Linked DNA regions of Homo sapiens: regions 2, 3, 4 and 5 are each linked to region 1. Evidence: fine-mapped expression QTL. A gene starts in region 1. Each other region holds a variant in brackets. All regions are shown on one strand. Distances are from middle to middle. Region 1 holds the start of VOPP1 (VOPP1 WW domain binding protein). Region 2 overlaps VOPP1 (VOPP1 WW domain binding protein). Region 3 overlaps SEPTIN14 (septin 14). Region 4 has its middle 140 kb from the start of SEPTIN14. Region 5 has its middle 86 kb from the start of LANCL2.

The links. PIP is the estimated chance that this variant, and not a neighbour inherited with it, causes the effect.
Region 2: its variant is the best candidate, but not a certain one, in a credible set for the expression of VOPP1 in lung (TOPMed, PIP 0.58).
Region 3: its variant is the best candidate, but not a certain one, in a credible set for the expression of VOPP1 in whole blood (TOPMed, PIP 0.64).
Region 4: its variant is the best candidate, but not a certain one, in a credible set for the expression of VOPP1 in whole blood (INTERVAL, PIP 0.65).
Region 5: its variant is the best candidate, but not a certain one, in a credible set for the expression of VOPP1 in whole blood (INTERVAL, PIP 0.60).

Annotation. Positions count from the first base shown.
Region 1 is chr7:55,570,427-55,574,426 of GRCh38, reverse strand. It overlaps VOPP1 (VOPP1 WW domain binding protein), which reads left to right and starts at 1,925. Exons shown (of 5, transcript NM_030796.5): 1 at 1,925-2,156. The coding sequence starts at 2,103. VOPP1-DT (VOPP1 divergent transcript) reads right to left here and starts at 1,661. Exons shown (of 17, transcript NR_187585.1): 1 at 1,110-1,661. RefSeq lists enhancers at 1-132, 463-542, 2,872-2,931 and a silencer at 1,692-2,671.
Region 2 is chr7:55,491,639-55,495,786 of GRCh38, reverse strand. VOPP1 (VOPP1 WW domain binding protein) reads left to right here. Exons shown (of 5, transcript NM_030796.5): 4 at 3,369-3,505. Among named protein-coding and RNA genes, the nearest start is that of VOPP1, 79 kb to the left of the region's middle. RefSeq lists an enhancer at 1,514-2,713. The variant G/A (reference allele first, on the strand shown) is at 2,396.
Region 3 is chr7:55,805,706-55,809,853 of GRCh38, reverse strand. SEPTIN14 (septin 14) reads left to right here. Exons shown (of 10, transcript NM_207366.3): 8 at 2,596-2,764. Among named protein-coding and RNA genes, the nearest start is that of SEPTIN14, 55 kb to the left of the region's middle. The variant A/G (reference allele first, on the strand shown) is at 1,892.
Region 4 is chr7:55,717,643-55,721,790 of GRCh38, reverse strand. No RefSeq gene overlaps it. Among named protein-coding and RNA genes, the nearest start is that of SEPTIN14, 140 kb to the left of the region's middle. The variant G/A (reference allele first, on the strand shown) is at 2,573.
Region 5 is chr7:55,449,639-55,453,786 of GRCh38, reverse strand. It overlaps a transcript of VOPP1 not described here. Among named protein-coding and RNA genes, the nearest start is that of LANCL2, 86 kb to the right of the region's middle. The variant T/C (reference allele first, on the strand shown) is at 1,831.

The DNA of each region.
Region 1 (4,000 bases):
CTTTTTCAGTGGTATCTGATGCCCTTATAATTTGTGCTCAAGGAAACAGCCTGGCTGGTTAGCCTACACCCCATCCTCCAACCATGCCAAGCAACCACCACATCATTCAGGACCAAACAGAGAGCACACAGGAGAGGTATCAGACTGAGGTGAAAGCAGAGTCACAGTTCTAATTTTATTCTTGGAAAAAAACTTGCACAAATTACAGGAAGTCGAGCTCAGCAAAACAATCTTCCAGGCAGAGAGAGATGCAGAAGGGAGGTTATGTCAGACACTAGTAGGTTGCTCACAATGCAACAGAACCACAATTTGCACACGAATACATCGTGGACACAAGTCAAAGTTCCATTTTAACCCATTAATGATGGAAACAGTGGGATGACAAAGGTGCTTCAAAGGAGAATGCAGGCAAGTGACCTACACACACAGTCAAAAGCGGGGAGAAAAGAGAAAGGAAACGCTGGGAATGAAGTGGCTCAATCAGATAGGAAGCTGGTTATGATTCTCACCTTAAGCAGGGGTCATTTGTCTTATACACACACACACACACACACACACACACGTTTTAATGGAGACAGGTTCTTGCTGTGTTGCCCAGGTTGGGGTTGGTGAACTCCTGGGCTCAAGCAATTCTCACACCTCAGCTTCCCAGACTGCTGGGATGATAGGCATGAGCCACCCTGCCTGGCCCATTTGCATTTTTACAGGACGAGATCACTTCTATCCCCACTGGAAAAACATTTGTCTTGCTAACACACAATAAGCTTTCAGCTTAGTTTTCTACAAGTTAACTTTTCCATTAAAAAGAGTTGTAAAATGTCCTCATTGTAAATAGTAAAACTACTAGAGTTCAATGGCGTTTGGCAGGCTTGTCAGATAGGTGCCTTAGCATGACTGAAGGCCATAGGCATTGTTTCTGTCTTACTTGTAAGTTCTGGCTCTGACAGGTATAGTCAGGTGGTGCATGCTCTATATTAATCAAATTAGGCTTTGAAAGCTGGGAAAGAGTTGGGGACTTGCCTCGGGTGACATCTGTTCGTGTGACCCCCTCCTTCCACCTCCTGTACTGCGCAGCTCATGTCCTTTATGACCCTCTGTGATGCACCCACCTCCTGGTCTCCGCACTCAGCATTCTGCATCAGGTGGTTTAAGCGACTCTCCCTCCCTCTAGGCTACGGGAGCAGTTTTCTTGTCCTCCTCTCAGCCTCCAACTCAGGATCTGGTACATCTTACAAGTTTAATAGTGTTTGTTGAATAACCTCATGAAGAAGGTGGGATCTGAGCTGTGTTGTGAAAAAATAGTGTCTGTGAGGACATGGAGGTGGGGTCAGCGGAGGCGAGGACAGCGCGAGCTCCGCACAGTTTTCTGCTGCGGGAGGGTGGCCTGCAAGGCGGGGCCGGTTGCGGTCAAGTTCAAGTAGGGTCAGAGCAGGAGAACACTGGCATAAAAAATAGCCACATCCAAGGAAGCAGTGAGGTGTGGGGACCATCTATTTCGGTGGGCCTTCCCACCCCCAGGCCGGCCTTCCCATCACGCGTGGGTGTGGGGGCACTGCCCCCGCTGCGCGCAGGAACAGCGGGGAGAGCCAGGAGCGGAGCGGCTTCGGGATGCCAGACTGAGCAGTGGGTTCGTCTGCGGCCACCTCTCAGGGAACAAGCTTCCCCCCGCGGAGACTCTGCTTCTTTTAAAAGCCTTCCTGGGTTTAGTCTAGGGCGACAGGACGACCTCCCTTGGGAAGGGAGAGCCTGCCAGTCCCCCTCCCATTCGCCAGGCGGTGCAGCCCCTCCTCCCGCCCGGGGCGCGCGCACCTCAGCGTCGCGGGCCTAGCGCCCAGCAGCCGCGCCCCAGGCCGGGCCTCGGGTTCCGGGAGCCCGCAGGCGCGCGCCCGGCCGGGCGTGTCGGGAGCGCGCGGCGGCCGGGGGCGGAGCGCAGCCAGGGCTGCGCGGCGCGCCCCGGCTCCCGCCCGCTCCCAGCCGGGCCCCCCAGCGGTCGGCGGGACGGCTCCCGGCTGCAGTCTGCCCGCCCGCCCCGCGCGGGGGCCGAGTCGCGAAGCGCGCCTGCGACCCGGCGTCCGGGCGCGCTGGAGAGGACGCGAGGAGCCATGAGGCGCCAGCCTGCGAAGGTGGCGGCGCTGCTGCTCGGGCTGCTCTTGGAGGTAGGGGCCGGGGACCGGGTGCTGCCGGAGGCGCGGCGCCCACCATGCTGGCGGCTGGGGGCGCGCAGTTCCGAGGCGCCCCAGAGGACCTTGCCTGGGAGCGCAGACGGTGGAGCGACGGGGAGCCACAGCCCTGCGCGCCTCCCGGAGCTGGGAGGTGCGGGACCCTGGTGACGGGGAGGCTCCCGCCCCGGTCCGCGCCTTCCGTCGTTCCTTCGGTTTTCGCACCCCGCCCCCACCCTGCGGGTGAGCGCGTTTCCCGCGCCGACCGCCTCCGTTAGCTCGGGGTGACCTTTGTGCACCGTCCGCCCCCTCTCCCCGCCGCAGAGGGCCGAGGATCGGATGGACCCGGGGTTGGGCGGGGGTGGTCCTCGGGCGCGGCGCAGGCGCGGAGAGCCCGGGGCGCCGGGCAGTTTGGGGTTAGGAAAGGATGGGTGCCGAGCCGGGGTGAGGGGAGCGGGCGGAGGGGACTGTGGGGAAGTGTCGCGGGAGTGCCGGGAGTTGTGGAGGTGAGCAGCGGGAGGAGGCGTTCCCGCGTGTGAAAATGAAGTGCAGCCTTTAGGTGCGGGGAGGAAATTCTGCGGAGAGCCTGGCTGGGTGGGGGTGCGGAGCCGAAGCCGGCGGGGAACTTGTTGAGCGGCTTCCGGGTGCGAGCGCCCGTGACCGCATCCCTGGCGGGGACCGCGGCTGCTCCTGGCTGTGAAATTGCATCCTCGGATGGGGCCACATACTTCTCACTAAAGCAGGTTCCTTAAAATGCGAACTAGAGGAATTCTGGGGTGTCCAGTCTGAATCAGGGCTTGTTCAACTTTCTCCTTAGTTTCATTATTCTGAAGGAAATTTGCGTTAAATTAATGAAGTCAAAAGAAATAGGTAATGAATCCCATGCCTCTGTTTTAGGAAGTTGTGAAACTATCTTCCTTAATAGTTAGTGATTGGTGCTGGAAATTACTAGTTTGTCTTCGCCCTTTATTAAAAAGTAATTATTACAAAATGTTGGAGGAAAAGTGTTTCCTGAAAGGAAGGCTGGTGGACAAATTTCTCCTTGCTCCAGGCTCTGCCATAGCCGAGACTTCCTGTTTCTGTTCGGAAATATCCCCGTAGCTTGGTATTTAATGTTTTTGTGGAGTGCCTCTGCTTGCATTCTTTCCATTTATTCAGAATTTTAGAACCTTAGGAATCACATTCTCTGAGTGACTCACCATAGAGAACAAAGAAGTGAATCAGAGACCAGTAATCGCATGAAAACAGATGTGCTTGTACCTTAATGTGTGTACCTATACTTGCAATCTTTATTTTTTATTTTTATTTATTTATTTCTTTAGTTTTGAGATGGAGTCTCGTTCTGTGGCCCAGGCTTGAGTGCTGTGGCGCGATCTTGGCTCACTGCAATCTCCGCCTCCTGGGTTCAAGCTATTCTCCTGCTTCAGCCTCCCCAGTAGCGGGGACTACAGGCGCCCACCACTATGCCCGGCTAATTTTTGCATTTTTAGTAGAGTCGGGGTTTCGTCATGTTGGTCAGGCTGGTCTCGAACTCCTGACCTCAGGTGATCCGCCCGCCTCGGCCTCCCAAAGTGCTAGGATTACAAGGTGAGCCACCGCGCCCGGCCCTGCAATCTTTTTTAATCGGCACTTGATGAAATTATTTAGCGTTTCTTTCATTCTAGTTTGTGCCACCCATGTCTCCCAAGCCTTCTGTCTGAGTGGTTCTGTGCCCTATATGTAGCCTAGACGGCCTCAGTGACTCCATTCTTTCCAAAATAGCTGTTTCGTTGCATAGGAATGTATCCTCTTAATAGGAGTTCAGATCATGTCTGCAAAGTTGAAACGACCTTAAAGGCAGA
Region 2 (4,148 bases), 79 kb after region 1:
GCCCCACCCGAAATACAAAGGGCACCTGGGTTCACCCCATGCATTTTCTCTCTCAATCAACATCGGGTCTGATATACACCAGGCATTGTGCTGGGGTTTTATGGAGAGGCTTTAGGCAGGCAGACTCCTGAAGAAGATGATGTCTAAGCAGATAATGAGGTGTGGATACTTTCAAGCCAGAGCACAGAACTTCTGAAGCCAGAAAAGTTGGAGAAAGCTACAAAGCTTTTGACTGGGTCGTCAGAGAGGGCGTTTGGGGCAGAGGGACAGCACCTTGCAGGGCCAGAGTGTAAGAAGAGTGGATGTGTTAAAAGGTGATGGGAAGCTTCTGTGGTGAGGATGAGCATTTGGTGGACAGGAGTGGCGGCAGGATGGGAGGGAGGGGCTGCTCTGCTGCCTGGGCCCCACAACGTTTGAAGGTGTCTCCTGACCATAAAACAAAGGTTTTGAAAGAGAATGCCTTCAGAGTTCCTGCCAACTCCAAGATCTTGAGGATCTTTTCACCAAGGAGGTCTGGATGGAATCAAGAGTAGAGAAGGTGGACCGATGGCACCCTTGAGTGGACTCAGAAAGCACAGTGGGCCCGAGTGAGAACTAGCCTAGGTGGCACTGTGGGTGAGTCCACAGCAGGGTCCCATGCGGAGTCCTGAGTGGGGTCTGGGCAGGGCTTGCACAGTAGCTGCACCAGTCCTTGGGACTGCAGAATTGAGAACTGCTACACTCGGGGCTGGGGGGTCGGGGGGAGGAATCAAAAAACAAATTGAATTAAAGTAACCAGGTAACTTCTAATGTTAAAAAAAAGGCACAAACCTTCCTCTCTTAATCCCTTTGAAAGCTTCCAAAACCTGCTGAGCAACCAAAGAGGACATCTAGGGAACAGCCAGCCCGTACCCCCAGCACTGCAAGAACTGCCTTTCTTACTACTACTCCTCTCTCCCAGCCAACACCCTGCTTCGTCTCTTTCCTTGTTTTTAGAAGCGCTTTCTCCTGCCCCTTTGTTAGTTTCTCTCTTTTAAAATAAGTTCTTGGCCTAGCACAATGGTGCACTTTGGGAGGCCAAGGTGGGAGGATCACTGAAGCCAGGAATTTGAGATCACTCGGCAACATAGTGAGACTCCGTCTCTACCAAAAATTATTTTAAATAAATTTTTAAAATAAACATAAATGAACAGAATAAGTTATCAGACTATGATTTCAGTAAGGGATGAAGTGGATCCCGTGTAACTCCATTCCAGCCTCGCCTTATGCTTGCTCACCATTAGTCTAAGGTGGGAGCTGCAATGTCATTTCCTTTTGTGTAGAAAAACAAAATGTTCTTACTACTGTTGGCAGTGGAACCGACATTTTAGCTTATTTTTTAGACAAGACTAAGATCTCAGGTGCCTTCTGCATTTTTCAATCCAGCGAGCCTGGTCTCTTGGAAGTGGCCAGTGGCTCTGAGAAAGTAAACCCTGTACACATCCAGCCTCTCTGTGCTTTGTATATTTCTACCCAGATACTAACAGCAGGACTCAGTGCTGAGTGTAAGACTGTCACTGAGCCCACCTGAGGGAAATCGGTTTTAGGAGAGGAAGCCGTTCCCTTTGGGAACTTAGTGAGTGTTCTTGATGCCGAGCACATTAAGCCTTACATCACCACACTCCTGAACGGTTTGGGTCTCCGGGCTCCCCATGGCCGCTCCCTCCGCCCATCATGGGGACTGAGCCTCCAGGCCTCCTGCTCCCACCTTCTCCGGCCCCAGTACCTGCTCTGTGTTCTTTCCACCCAGAATGCCCCTTCTTCCCCTTCAGCTTGTCTCTTCTCATTCTTCAGAGCCCAGCCCAGCTGTCACTAAAAGAAATGCAGTGTTCCCAGTCTTGCTCACCACCACAGATACCCTTGTTCAAACCTCTTGGTGCACTGAATTATACACTTAAAAATGATTAAAATAGTAAATTATATTTATGTATATTTTACCCAATCACACACACAGTATTCTTCTTGCATCGCTCATTTTTCTTTTTTAGCACTTACCAGGTTGTAGATAAATAATTGTAAAAGTTGGTATCTGTCTCCCTCCTCTGTAAGCTCAGTGTTGGCGGGGTCGGGGGGCCCCTCACCTGTCTACTCATTGCTGTGATCAGTATGGTGACAGGGCATAGCAGGCACCTGAAGATGACTTGCTGAATGAATAATGAATTAGACGGCAGATGACAAAGGCCACAGTTTCAGTCTTTCCTGAGTCATTCCTGTCTCGTGCCTCTGGCTTTTCTCCCTGCTCAGCCTTCCAAGATTATCCAGTAAATACTTTTGGACTGGCTGAAGGCCTTGACATCACATTAATATTCTCAAAGGCTTTATCGTACGCTCTTAAGAGCTTCTTTTATATGTGGACCAGTGCCACTGACTGCGACCC[G/A]CTCTGCTGTGTGCCCATCCTCACAGGGCAGCAGGTGCCCTCACCGTGTGGGTGTCTGCATGGCTTCTGGACAGTTCCATGGGTCCCCTCATAATTTCAGTTCAGAGATGGGCAAGAGTTTGCCAGTTTGCCAGTTTTGTCTACTACTAGTTCTTCTCAAAGTGACTCTCCTCTTTTTCTAGAAACAAAAAGTATGGTGCAAGTGAGGAATGGAAGGAAGCCATTCATGTGTTCATTCTGCAGTCGTTTACTGAATGCTGATGAAGTGATAGTCAATGAGAATTCACAGATGGGTTGGACAAAGGTGCTACCCTTAAAGAGTTCAGCTCTGCTTCTGTTATTGTTTGTATTTTATTTCTATTGATAGATTGTATTTCTCTTGATTCTATTTTCATTGATTGTATTTCTATTCCCATAGTTTCTCTGTAATTAAGGTGTGCTCCAGGAAGGGTACTTCTGTTTCCTTGTGGGTGTTGATGTGATAATGGAGACGTGGTCTGGAGGATAAATGTGCTCTGCCTTGGTGCTTTGACAGTGAAGAATGGAAAACAGAGACAGACAGCGAGGCCAAGGCTGGATCGGCCATGGCTTTCAGACAGGATTTAGATGGCATCTCCTCTTCTAACTAAAATGTCGAGCTGAGGTCAGAGCCGTGGACGAGGAAGTGACTGCATGAGCTTTTTCTTTTACGGTGCTTTTCAGGGTGGGTGGCCTCACCAGGGGCTGTCCCAGAGGCCGCAGGTCAAGCATCTACTTGTTGCTATCCACTAGAGGAATGTCCCTGGGTAAAATGGGCCCAAGAGGACCAAGTCTGAGGTGCGAGCCTCATGGCTCTGCCCTTGCCTTCTGACTCGTGCATTTGGGAGTCATTGGTCCCGGACCCCCGAGGAGTGCATGAGGCCTTTGAGCTGTAGGGCCAAGCCCTCAGGGCCCCCACCTGGGAGCACCACCCTCACGTCTGTACTCTCCTCAGGTTCCTTCTGATGATGGGCGTGCTTTTCTGCTGCGGAGCCGGCTTCTTCATCCGGAGGCGCATGTACCCCCCGCCGCTGATCGAGGAGCCAGCCTTCAATGTGTCCTACACCAGGCAGCCCCCAAATCCCGGCCCAGGTCAGCCAGCCCTGTCCTTGTCTCTCCTCCCCACAGTGTGTGTCGTCTGCCAACATTTATAAAGGGTACTGCTGCAGAAAGGGTACTGCCAGAAGAGAGCGCTCAGGTGTGTTATTCATTTTTTTAGTTCTGATGACCAGCTCCATTGTGCATTTGTGCAGATAACAAATGTAAGGTATATCGCACGCCCGTCACCTCATATTCTTACAGTTATCAGTGTGCCACATATGCACGTGATATGATGCAGTTTGTATAAGCGTATTATTTGCTCTCTGCCCTTTTCCTTAAACATTATTTCACATATAAATTTCTGTGTAGGAGCGGTAATACCCCTGCCATTTTTAGTGCTTCTGGACTAGATACTAATTATGTTACTAAATGGTAATTTGCTTAGATATTTTATTATTGCTGATAATTTGTTTTGTTTTCTCATGTTTTGTCTTTTATTCATGCATTCAACAAGTATTCATTGTGCAGTTACTAGTATTCCAAATACTTACAAAGACCATAGCAATAGACATTCTTGTACAGGTCACATGTAGTCTGTTTAGTGCATAACACCCAAAGTGACATCCCAGGGTCAAAATGAATTAGCTGTTTCTTAATTCTTGTAAAACATTGCCTTAGCCATCTAAAACTCCTA
Region 3 (4,148 bases), 240 kb before region 1:
CTCAAAAAAAAAAAAAAAAAGACAAGCCATTACAAGTGCTGGCAAGCATATGGAGAAGAGAGAATTCTTTTTTTTTTTTTTTTAATTTTTATTTTAGGTTCAGGGGTACATGTGCAAATTTGTTATATAGATAAATTGCATGTCATGGGGGTTTGGTGTAAAAGATTATTTCATCACAGAGATAATTAGCATAGTACTGGCTGGAGCAGTGGCTTGAGTCTGTAATCCCAGCACTTTGGCAGGCTGAGGCACGTGGATCACCTGAGTTCAGGAGTTCAAGACTAGCCTGACCAACATGGCAAAACCCCGTCTCTACTAAAAAATACAAAAATTAGCCAGGTGTGGTGGCGCGCTCCTGTAATCCCAGCTACTTAAGAGGCTGAAGCAGGAGAATCACTTGAACCCAGGAAGTGCAGGTTGCAGTGAGCCGAGATCGTGCCATTGCACTCCAGCCTCAGCAACAGAGCGAGATTCCATCTCAAAAAAAAAAAATTGCTCACTTTAGCAGCACATATACTAACCAAAAAAAAAAAAAAAAAAAAAAGTAAGCATAGTAGCTTTTCTGTCCTCACTCTCCTCCCACCCTCCACCCTCAAGGAGGCCCCAGTGTCTGTTGTTCTCCCCTTTGTGTCTATGTGTTCTCAATATTTATCTCCTACTTATAAATGAGAGTATGTGGTATTTGGTTTTCTGTTCCTGCATTACATCACTTAGGATAATGGCTTCAGCTCCATTCATGTTGCTGCAAAGGACACGATCTTGTTCTTTTTTTATGGCTGTGTAGTATTCCATAGTGTATATGTTCATTTTCTCTATCCAGTCTACCATTGATGGGCATTTAGATTGATTCTATGTCTTTGTTATTGTGAATAGTGCTGCAATGAACATACACGTGCCTGTGTCTTTATGATAGAACAATATATATTCCTTTGGATATAAACCTGGTAATGGGATTACTGGGTCAAATGGTAGTTCTGTTTTAACTTCTTTAAGAAATTGTCAGGCCGAGCGTGGTGGCTCATGCCTGTAATCCCAGCACTTTGGGAGGCTGAGGAGAGTGGATCACCTGAGGTCAGGAGTTCGAAACCATCTTGGTCAACATGGTGAAACTCCATCTTTACTAAAAATACAAAAATTAGCTGGGCCTGGTGGTGGACTTCTGTAATCCCAGCTACTTGAGAGGCTGAGGTTGGAGAATCACTTGAACCCAGGAGGCGGAGGTTGCAGTGAGCTGAGGTCGCACTGCTGCACTCCAGCCTGGGTGACAAAAGCGAAACTCTGTCTCAAAAAAAGAAAAAAAGAAATTATCAAACTACTTTTCACAATGGCTGAACTAATTTATATTCCCACCAGCAGTGTATATATATTTCTAAGAAAAAAGGGAATTCTTAAACATCATTGGTGGGAATTTAAGTTGGTACAGCCATTTTGGGAAATAATATGAAGGTTCCTCAAAAACTAAAAATAGTATTACTGTATGATCCAGCAGTACCACTACTGGGTATGTACCCTAGTGGAATGAAATTGATCTGTCAAAAGACATGTGCACTCACATTTTTATTTCAGTCTTTTAAAATATGTTAAGACTTATTTTGTGGCCTAACATATGATCTATCCTGAAGAATGTCTTGTGTTTGTTTGAGAAAAATGGGTATTACTTTGCTGTTGGATGAAATATTCCACATATGTCCATTAGGTCTATTTGGTCTAAAGTGTAGTTTAAATCTGATATTTTCTTACTGATATTCTGTCTGGATAATCTATCCATTGCTGAAAGTAGGGTATCTAAGTCCCTTACTATTATTGTAATACAGTCTATCTCCCCCTCAGGTCTGCTAATATTTGCCTTATATATTTAGAAGTTGTGATATTGGGTGCATATATATTTACA[A/G]TTGTTATTTTTTTAATGAACTGACCTCTTCATCATGATATGATGACCTTCTTTATATCATTTTACAGTTTTTGACTTAAAGTCTATCTTCTGTGATAGGAGTATAGCTTTCCGTGCCTTCTCTTTTAGTTTCTAATTGCATGAAATATCTTTCCGTGTCTTCACTGTCAGTCTGTATGTATCATTAAAACAGCTATGTGAATTTGTTGATTGATTTTGAATATTGACTAACGGTGTCTCCTAAATATGATATATAAATGGAAATATGTAACTAAAGTATTTTCAATTGTAAGGCCTTTTTGCTAGCAGAATTTACTCTGATAAAATTATTTACACTAGTGATGTTATATTACATATTCTGTTAGCACTCCAAAATACCCAGAGGTAGTTTATAACATACTACACAATTGTTAATAAAAACCTATGGCATATATGCACATAAAATATTATTTCACTATTTCCTGCTTATTCTTCAGGTAATAAGTTTAAAGCAAATTTGCTAACCTATAAATAATCTCTGCCTATGGTTGGTATGTATAGTACAACCACACTTACATGCTTAAAAGAATTATAGCTATTAATCAAATTGTTCAGTTGTGTGTTATTTTAAATGTGTTTTTTATTCATGTATTCATTCATGAACACTTACTGATTGTCAGGGATTGATACTGAATGTTGTTGATTCATTATTATTTTTTTACTAGTGGAAAATGAAAATCACTGTGACTTCGTTAAGCTCCGAGATATGCTTCTTTGTACCAATATGGAAAATCTAAAAGAAAAAACCCACACTCAGCACTATGAATGTTATAGGTACCAAAAACTGCAGAAAATGGGCTTTACAGATGTGGGTCCAAACAACCAGCCAGTTAGGTGAGTAAAAATATTGCTAGCACAACCAAATGGATAATTTAGGAGTCCCTACAAACACAAGGTATGATAATTTGGATATGAGAATAATTATACTTCTCCCATCTTGAGCCATCATAAAGAAAACACCTGAATGTTAGGTGTTTTTATGATCTTTTGACGAAGGTAGAGATAGTAGGAACAATATAATGCGAGATCTCATTTTTATGCTGAAATATGTGTATTCAATATGTATATATGCTGAAATGTATATTGATGAAAAAACCCAGTATTTTGTTCCATTTTTTGTATTTATATGAAATGTATCTGTATTATGTGAAAGAAAGGATAGGCCGGGCGCTGTGGCTCATGCCTGTAATCCCAGCACTTTGGGAGGCTGAGGCGGGCGGATCATCTAAGGTCAGGTATTTGAGAGCAGCCTGGCCAACATGGTAAAACCCTGTGTCTACTAAAAATACAAAAAGTAGCCGGGCATGGTGGCACACGCCTGTATCCCAGCCACTTGGGAGGCTGAGGCAGGAGAATCGCTTGAACCCTGGAGGCGGAGGTTGCAGTGAGCTGAGATCACCTCACTGCACTTCCAGCGTGGCGGACTGAGCAAGACTCCATCTTAAAAAAAAAAAGAAAAAAAAAGAAAGGATAAAGAAAAAGATGGAAAAATATTAGCAAAGTTTGACAAAAGACATTAAGAAGAGTTTGATGGAGGAACCAGCTGAAAAGCAGTAGTGCAGCATCCTGGAAGTTAAATGAGAAAAGTTTGAGAGCAGGTGTTTGCTCTAACTTGAAGAATAGAGCCGGGTGCAGTGGCTCCCGCCTGTAATCCCAGCACTTTGGGAAACCGAGACAGGCAGATTACCTGAGGTCAGGAGTTTAAGATCAGCCTGGCCAACATGGTAAAGCTCCGTCCCTACTAAAAATACAAAAAAAATTAGCTGGGCGTGGTGGCGGGTGCCCGTAATCCCAGTTAACTCGGGAGGCTGAGGCAGGAGAATCGCTTGAACCTGGGCAGCAGAGATTGCAGTGAGCTGAGATCGTGCCACTGCACTCCAGTCTGGGCGACAAAGAGAGACTCTGTCTCAAAAAAAAAAGAAGAATAGGACTTGTGTTGCAAAAACATGGCACTGTAGTGTATATAATCTAGTTATATCATTCATTGTTCTTTGTAGACACCCAAAATTTAACTATCTTAAATGAATGATGATATTTTGAAAGACTTTTTGCTTTATTTTAGAGGATTTTTGAAAATCGTCTCATACATTAGAGGTTTCCCTGAATGTTATTGTCAAAAGATATGAAAATGTATGATATCCTGGAAAGTGGTGGGGATAAGAATTCACTCATATAAGTGTTGGAAAATTCTAGTATTCTTTACATATACTGTCTATAT
Region 4 (4,148 bases), 150 kb before region 1:
CTGTAATCCCAGCTTCTAGGGAGGCTGAGGCAGGAGAATTGCTTGAACATGAGAGGCAGAGGTTGCAGTGAGCCAAGATCGTGCCACTGCACTCCAGCCTTGGTGACAGTGAGACGCCATCTCAAAAAAAAAAAAAAAAGAATATAGCCATGAGGATAGTTATTTATCTCAAGTAATGTGTTGCCAATATAATGTGAGCTTTTGTGTAGGCAGTTTAGTGTGTTGACTATGATGTCTCTTGTCTTAGTGGTCCTTGGGTTAATAATTTTAAAGAGCATCATCAGAGGGTGCTACAGACAACTTTCCCATCACTCCCCTGGGGCAGTGATGGAAGGGGACAAAAACAAGCTGGTGGAGAGGAAAGGAGGGTGTTGGATGTGCTAGGTGGTTTCCATTTGCCTTTCTAGGTCCACCCTTCACCTGTTCCATTTGCTTTTTGCTCTGGGAGGCTGACATGTATGGACTACATGTGCATAGTATGGGTTACATTAATGACCCTTTGTCTTCTGGCTTTGGTTGGGTTCAGCCATTGGGACATTGTGATAAGCCATTCCTGCATCACTGGAGAGAAATACCCAAGGCTGGGTAATTTATAAGAAAAGAGGTTTAATTGGCTCACAGTTCTGCAGGCTGTACAGGAAGCATTGCATGCTGTCGTCAGCTTCTGGTGAGGACCTCAGGAGATTTATAGTCATGGTGGAAGGGAAAAGGGGAGCAGACATCTCACATGGCAAGAGCAGGAGCAAGAGAGAGAGGGTGGGAGGTGCCACACACTTTTAAACAAGCAGATCTCTGAACTCATTCATCACCGAGGGGATGGCGCTAAGCCCTCCCACCAGGCCCCACCTCCAACACTGGGGATTACATTTCAACATGAGATTTGGCATGGACACAGATCCAAACCCTATCAGGCATCAGATGTTCAAAGCGAGGGAAGAGAGTGAGGTGAAGGTATGTATTCCTCTGGCTTCCTGTCTGTAGGGTCACCATGGATTGTGGCCCTAAACTAAAGGGCCCAGTTCTGTCAGGTAGCCCCTAGCTGCCCTCTCTGTCTCTGTCATTCAAGCTCAGGTGTGATAGCAGCATTCCCCACCCAGCCACAGAGGTACTATCCCTTGTGTTTTGCTGTGTTCTGTACACACCTTTGCACACACCCACTCTGTTATTACTTTAAAAAAACCATCAAATTTACCATTGTAACCACTTTGAACTGTATAATAGTGTTAGCTATATTCACACTGTTGTGCAATATATCTCTAGAATTTTTCCATCCTGCAAAATTGAAACTTTATGCCCACTGAACAACTTCTCTTCATTTTTCCCTCTTCCTTGTCCGCTGATAACAACATTCCACTTTCTGTTTCTATGAGTTTAACTACTTTAGATACCTCATATAATTCGTGGAATCATGCAGTATTTGTCTTTCTGTGACTGGCTTATTTCACTTTACGTAATGTCCTCAAGGTTCATCCATATTGTAGCATGTGATAGGATTTCCTTCCTTTTTAAGGCGGAATAATATTTCATTGTGTGTGTATACCACATATTTTTTATCCATTTATTTGTCTATGGACATTTAGATTGCTTCTAGCTTTTGGCTATTGTAAATCGTGCTGAGTTGAACATGTGTGTGCAAATATCTGAGTTGTTGTGGTTTTGTTTTTGTTTTAGTTTAGACAGAGTGGTTTTTTTGTTTTGTTTTGTTTTTTGGGATAGAGTGTCGCTCTTAGTGCCTGGGCTGGAGTACAGTAGTGCGATCTCAGCTCATCGCAACCTCCGCCTCCCAGGTTCAAGTGATTCTCCTGCCTCAGCCTCCTGAGTAGCTGGGATTACAGGCACCCAGCACTATGCCCAGCTGATTTTTGTATTTTTAGTAGAGACAGGGTTTCTCCGTGTTGGTCAGGCTGGTTTCTAACTCCCGACCTCAGGTGATCCGCCCGCCTCAGCCTCCCAAAGTGTTGGGATTACAGGCGTGAGCCACCGCGCCCGGCTTAGACAGAGTCTTTTGTTCTGTTGCCCAGGGTCGAGTGCAGTGGCATGATCACAGCTTACTGCAGCCTTGACCTCCTGAGCTCAAGTGATCCTCTCACTTCAACCTCCCGAGTACCTGGGACTACAGTACCTGTGCACCACCACACATGGCTAATTTTTGTGTTTTTGTAAAGATGGTGTTTCACCAGGTTGCCTAGGCTGGTCTTGAACTCTTGGACTCAAGCTTCAACCTTGGATTACAGGCATGAGCCACTGCGTTCGGCCTGATTCTGTTTTCAGTTCTTTTGGGTATACACCAAGAGATAGGATTGCTAGATCATACAGTACTTCTATTTTTAATTTTTTGAGGAGCCTACAGACCATTTTCTAGAGCAAGTACATTTTGCATTCCCATCAAAGTGCACAAAGATTCCAATTTCTCCATATCCTCTCCATCACTTTTTATTTTCCAGTTTTTTGATAGTGGCCATTCTAACAAGTGTGTGTGAGGTAATATTGCATTGCGGTTTTCTTTTTCCTTCTTTTTTTTTTTTTGAGACAGAGTTTCACTTTTGTCACCCAGGCAGGAGTGCAATGGCGT[G/A]ATCTTAGCTCACTGCAACCTCTGCCTCCTAGGTTCAAGCAATTCTCCTGCCTCAGTCCCCCGAGTAACTGGGACTACAGGCATATGCCACCATGCCTGGCTAATTTTTGTATTTTTAGTAGAGACGGGGTTTTGCCTCAGCCCCCCGAGTAGCTGGGATTACAGGCATATGCCACCATGCCTGGCTAATTTTTGTATTTTTAGTAGAGACGGGGTTTTGCCATGTTGGCCAGGCTGGTCTTGAACTCCTGACCTCAGGTGATCCACCCACCTCAGCCTCCCAAAGTGCTGGGATTGCAGGCGTGAGCCACCATGCCTGGCCTGCATTGTGGTTTTTGATTTGCATTTCTCTGCTGTTTAGTGATGTGTAGCATCTTTTCATATGCTTGTTGGCCATTTGTATATCTTCTTTGGAGAAATATTCATTCAATCCCTTTGCTCATTTTAAAATTGGATTATTTTGTGGTCGTTGAGTTTTAGGAGTTCTTTATATATTCTAGATATTAATCCCTTATCATATATGAGGTTTGCAAACATTTTCTCCCATTTTTTAGGTTGCCTTTTTACTCTGTTGATTGTTTTCTTTGCTGTTCAGAGTTTTAAAGTTTGACAAAGTCCCCTTTGTCTGTTTTTGTTTTTGTTACCTGTGCTTTTGGTGTCATATCCAATCCAATGTCATGATGCTTTTCCCTTGTGTTTTTTTCCTAGTTTTATAGTTTTGGATCTTATATTTATGCATTTAATCCATTTTGAATTGATTGTTTCCTATGGTATAAAGTAAGAATCTCCAACTTTATTCTTTTGCATGTGGAGATCCAATTTTCCCTGCACCGTTTATTGAAGAGACCATCCTTACCCACTGTGTAGCCTTAGCCCTTGTCAAAGATCATTTGACCATATAGGCAAAAGTTTATTTCTGGGCTATTTTGATCTATTGGTCTATGTGTCTGTATTTGGGTCAGTACCATGCTGCCTTGATTATGATAGCTTCATAATATGTTTCAAAATCAGGAAGTGTGAGGCCTCCAGCTTTGTTCTTCTTTCTCAGGATTGTTTTGGCTCTTTAGAGTCCTTCAAGATTCCAAGGCCAGGCACCATGGCTCACACCTGTAATCCCAGCACTTTGGGAGGCCGAGGCAGTCTGATCACCTGAGGTCAGGAGTTCAAGACCAGCCTGGCAAACATGGTGAAGCCCTGTCTCTACTAAAAATACAAAAATTAGCCAGGCATGGTGGCGGGCCCCTGTAATCCCAGCTACTCAGGAGGCTGAGGCAGAATTGCTTGAACCCGGGAAGCAGAAGTTGCAGTGAGCCGAGATTGCACCACTGCACTCTAGCCTGGGTGACAGAGTGAGACTCTATCTCAAAAAAAAAAAAAAATCCGTATGAATTTTAGTTTAGTTTTTTTTTTTTCTATTTCTGCAAAAAATGCCATCAGGATTTTGGTAGGAATCGCATTGAATCAATAGATTGCTTTGGTTAGTGTGGACATCTTAGCCATATTAAGTCTTCCCATCCATGAACGAGAAATGTCTTTCCATTTATTTGTGTCCTCTTTAATTTCTTTCTTTCTTTCT
Region 5 (4,148 bases), 120 kb after region 1:
GTCTATCAGTGCCATTTTTTTCCAACAGCATGTGCTCACTTTTTATCTCTATGTCTCATTTGGTAATTCACATAATATTTCAAACTTTTTCATTAATAAATAACTGTTATGGTGATCTGTGATCAGTGATATTTGATGTTAGTGTTGTACTATAGGGTGCCAATAACTCTGCCTATACAAGATGGTGTACTTAATCAATAAACGTGTATTCTGACTGCCTTACCCTCCATTCCCTCATCTCTTTCCCACTCTCTTCCCTGACACACAACAAACAATAATGAAATTAGGCTAGTTAGTAACCCTACAATGGCCTATAAGTGTTCAAGTGAAAGGAAGAGTTGTATGTCACTCATTTTAAATCAAAAGCTAGAAATGATTAAGTCTAGTAAGGAAGGCATGTCAAAAGCTGAAACAGGCTGAAAGCTAGGCCTCTTGCACCGGGTAGCCAACTTGTGAATGCAAAGGAAAAGTTCTTGAAGGAAATTAAAAGCGCTATTCCAGTGACACACAATGCTGATATAGTCTTCAATTCTATGGAGGCTGAAAGAGGTGAGGAAACTGCAGAAAAAAAGTTTGAAGCTAGCAGAGGTTGGTTTATGTGGTTTAAGAAAAGAAGTCATCTCCATAGCTTGGAAGTACAGGGTGCAGCAGAAAGTGCTGATGTAGAAGCTGCAGCAAGTAATGCAGAAGATCTAGCTAAGACCACTGAGGAGGGTGGCTACACTCGACAACAGAGTTTACATGTAGACAAAACAGCCTTCTACTGGAAGAAGATGCCATCTAGGACTTTGTAGCTTGAGAGGAAAAGTCAGCGCTTGTCTTTAAAGCTTCAAAGGACAGACTAACCCTCTAGTTAGGGGCTAATATAGTTGGTGAGCTAAGTTGAAGCCAGTGCTCGTTTATCATTCTAAAAATCCTAGGGCCCTTAAGAATTATGCAAAATCTACTCTGCCTTTATCCTATAAATGGAACAACAAAGCTTGGATGACAACACATCTTTTTACAGCATGGTTAGCTTAGTGTTTTAAGCGCACTGCTTCTCAGCAAAAACGATTCCTTTTAAAATATTATTGCTTATTGACAAAAGACCTAATCACCCAAGAGCTCTGATGGAGACATAGAAGATTATTGTTGTTTTCATGCCTGCTAACACACATTCATTCTGCAGCCCATGGATCAAGGAGTCATTTTGACTTTCAAGTCTTATTGTTTATGACATACATTTTGTAAGGCTATAGCTGTCATAGATAGTGATTCCTCTCATGGATCTGGGCAAAGTAAATTGAAAACCTTCTGGAAAGGATTTACTATTCTAGATGCTGTTAAGAACATTTGTGATTCATGGGAGGCAGTCAAAATACCAACATTAACAGGAGCTTGGGAGAAGTTGATTCCAACCTTATGGATGACTTGAACCCCTTCATGGAGGGGTTCAAGACATCAGTGGAGGAAATAACTGTGGATGTGGTGGAAATAGCAAGAGAAATATAATTCGAAGTGGAACCTGAAGTTGTGACTGAATTGCTACAATCTCATGGTAAAACTTTAATGGATGAGGTATTTCTTCCTATGGATGAGTGAAGAAGGTGGTTTCTTGAAATGGAATCTACTCCTACTAAAGATGCTGTGAATATTGTTGAAATTACAACACAGGATTCAGAATATATCATAAACTTAGTTGGTAAAGTAGTGGCAGGGTTTGAGAGGTTTAACTCCAATTTTGAAAGAAGTCCTACTATTGGTAAAATTCTGTCAAACAGCGTCGCATGCTACAGAGAAATCTTTCCTGAAATAAAGTCAATCAATGCGGCAGACTTCATTGTTGTCTTA[T/C]TTTAAGAAATTGCCACAGCCAGTCCAACCTTTAGCAACTACCACCCTGATCAGTTAGCAGCCGTCAACACTGGGAAAACACCCTCCACCAGCAAAAAGATTATGACCCACTGAAAGCCCAGATAACCGTTAGCATTTTTAGCAATAAAGCTTTTTTGTTTGTTTTTAGACAGAGTCTCGCTCTGTCGCCCAGGCTGGAGTGCAGCGGCACGATCTTGGCTCACTGCAATCTCTGCCTCCTGGGTTCAAGTGATTCTCCTACCTCAGCCTCCTGAATAGCTGGGACTACAGGCACCCGCCAGCACGCCCAGCTGATTTTTGTATTTTTAGTAGAGACGGGGGTTTCACCATATTGGCCAGGCTGGTCTCAAACTCCTGACCTTGTGATCCGCCCGCCTCTGCCTCCCAAAGTGCTGGGATTACAGGCGTGAGCCACTACATCCGGCCACAATAAAGTATTTTTTAATGAAGCTATGTACATTGTGGCTTTTAGACATAATGCTGTTGTGCACTTCATAGACTACAGTATAATGTAAACAACTTCTATATGTAGTGGGCAACCAAAAATTTGTATGACTCAAACTTTATTGCAATGTTCACTTAATTATGGTGTTCTGGAACTGAACCTGCAACATTTCCCAGGTATTCCTGTACTTCAGGCGTTTCTTTTGCCCCCTACCCCATAACTTTTTATTGTAATGTTCCTGTCTCAGATGGGCTGTGCGGAAGTGTCCAGAAAGGATCTCGTTCCACTCCTGTGCCTGTGTGGAAGGGGCCCAGTGCCCTCCTATAAATGGTGTGGTGGGTGCAAGGATGATTGTCAAGACACCCCCTACCCGCAAGAAGAAGGTGAAGGGAATTAGATTTGAGTCCTGTTGAATCTCCTCCCTAGGAGATCTCCCTCTGATGCCAGCCCTGAAGATCCAGGCTTCACTTTTACAAAAAAAGATGTATGTTCTTGTGCAGGTCTCAAGAGTATAATGAAGGAGGAGCAACGTGGCTTGGTCTGTTTTCAACAGTGACAGGAATGTTGGAGAGCACTCTCTTTGTCTTTCTCCCTGGACTCCAGAAATCACAAACAGTGCTGATATCATTTGCCACAGACCTAGTATTCAGTGCACATGGGAACAGAAGATTGATAACAAGTGTGTACCTGTGAAAACTGCCTGGGCGCAGCCCTTACCAATGACAATCCTTCATGTTTTTGTAGAAGAAAGGAATTTTGCATCTTACTTTAAAGCTTACGTGGGGAAAAGCTTTTAGATGTATATTCTTTACCAGTGCTGTCCACTAAAGGTATGATGTGAACCAGTGCATTGCTTTAAATTTTCATTACAAAGATTAATCAAAAAAATTATTTTAATGATATTCAGCCTAATATATCAAAGTATTATTTCAACATGTAATGATATAAAAGTATGTGAGTGAGAAATGTTACTTTTTTCCATATTCAAAATCCAGTTTGTATAACACATACTCAATGCACACTTCCACTTGGAGTGGCCACATTTCAAGGGCTATAAGAGCTGGTAGCGCTGGTGAGTGATTTACTGGACAGTGCAGAACCAGAGTGCATAGGGAAATGCCCAGCTCCTGGGTTCTGGGTGGTTACACAAGTTCCAGTGCTGGGTGGTCAGCCCTGAAATGGCATCCAGGTGCTGCTGGGGACACCCAAGAGAAGAGGCGGAGGACTGGTGGGACCTCAAGAACACCCCCAGGTCGGGGAGGTAACACTAGGACCAGCCTGAGGTCTCCTGCCCGAAATGTGCCCCCAGCCACAAGTCGGTGACTCCAACTCCCAAGGGGAAGCTCAGGGGTCCCTGGAAGGAGTGAGATGTTCTCAGCAAATGGAAGTAGGTGAAATGCAATCGTTGCTCGTCTTTTTCTTTATTACCATCCTTGTCAGTGTGGGTGCACAGAAATGTAAGATGCGGACAGAGGGCAGAAATCCTGGCTTCTCATCCAACCGCATTTCCAAAGGTCTGCTGACCACCTGGGTGCTACGCCTCAAGGGTGACATGTTTGTTTCTCCCCTCAAGGGTGACAGGTTTGTACTTAAAGGTCTCTGGGACCTCTGGCACCAGTGACATCCCTGATGCCCAGAAGTAGGCGTGTTGAGGGGCTGCAGGGGCCGCAGGAGGGTGGCAGGACCTACCGAGGCAGGGGCGGTAGAGGGCACAGTGCGGGGGTGGAGGGCTCCTGTCCCCTCGGGAGGCCAGGCTGCTCGCTGCTCTCCTCTCCCAGGACAGGCTCGGTGGCCAGAACGCCTCTGCAGGAACCTGGTCGGAGCTCAGCTGGCTCCTTCCAGGTGACCCCAG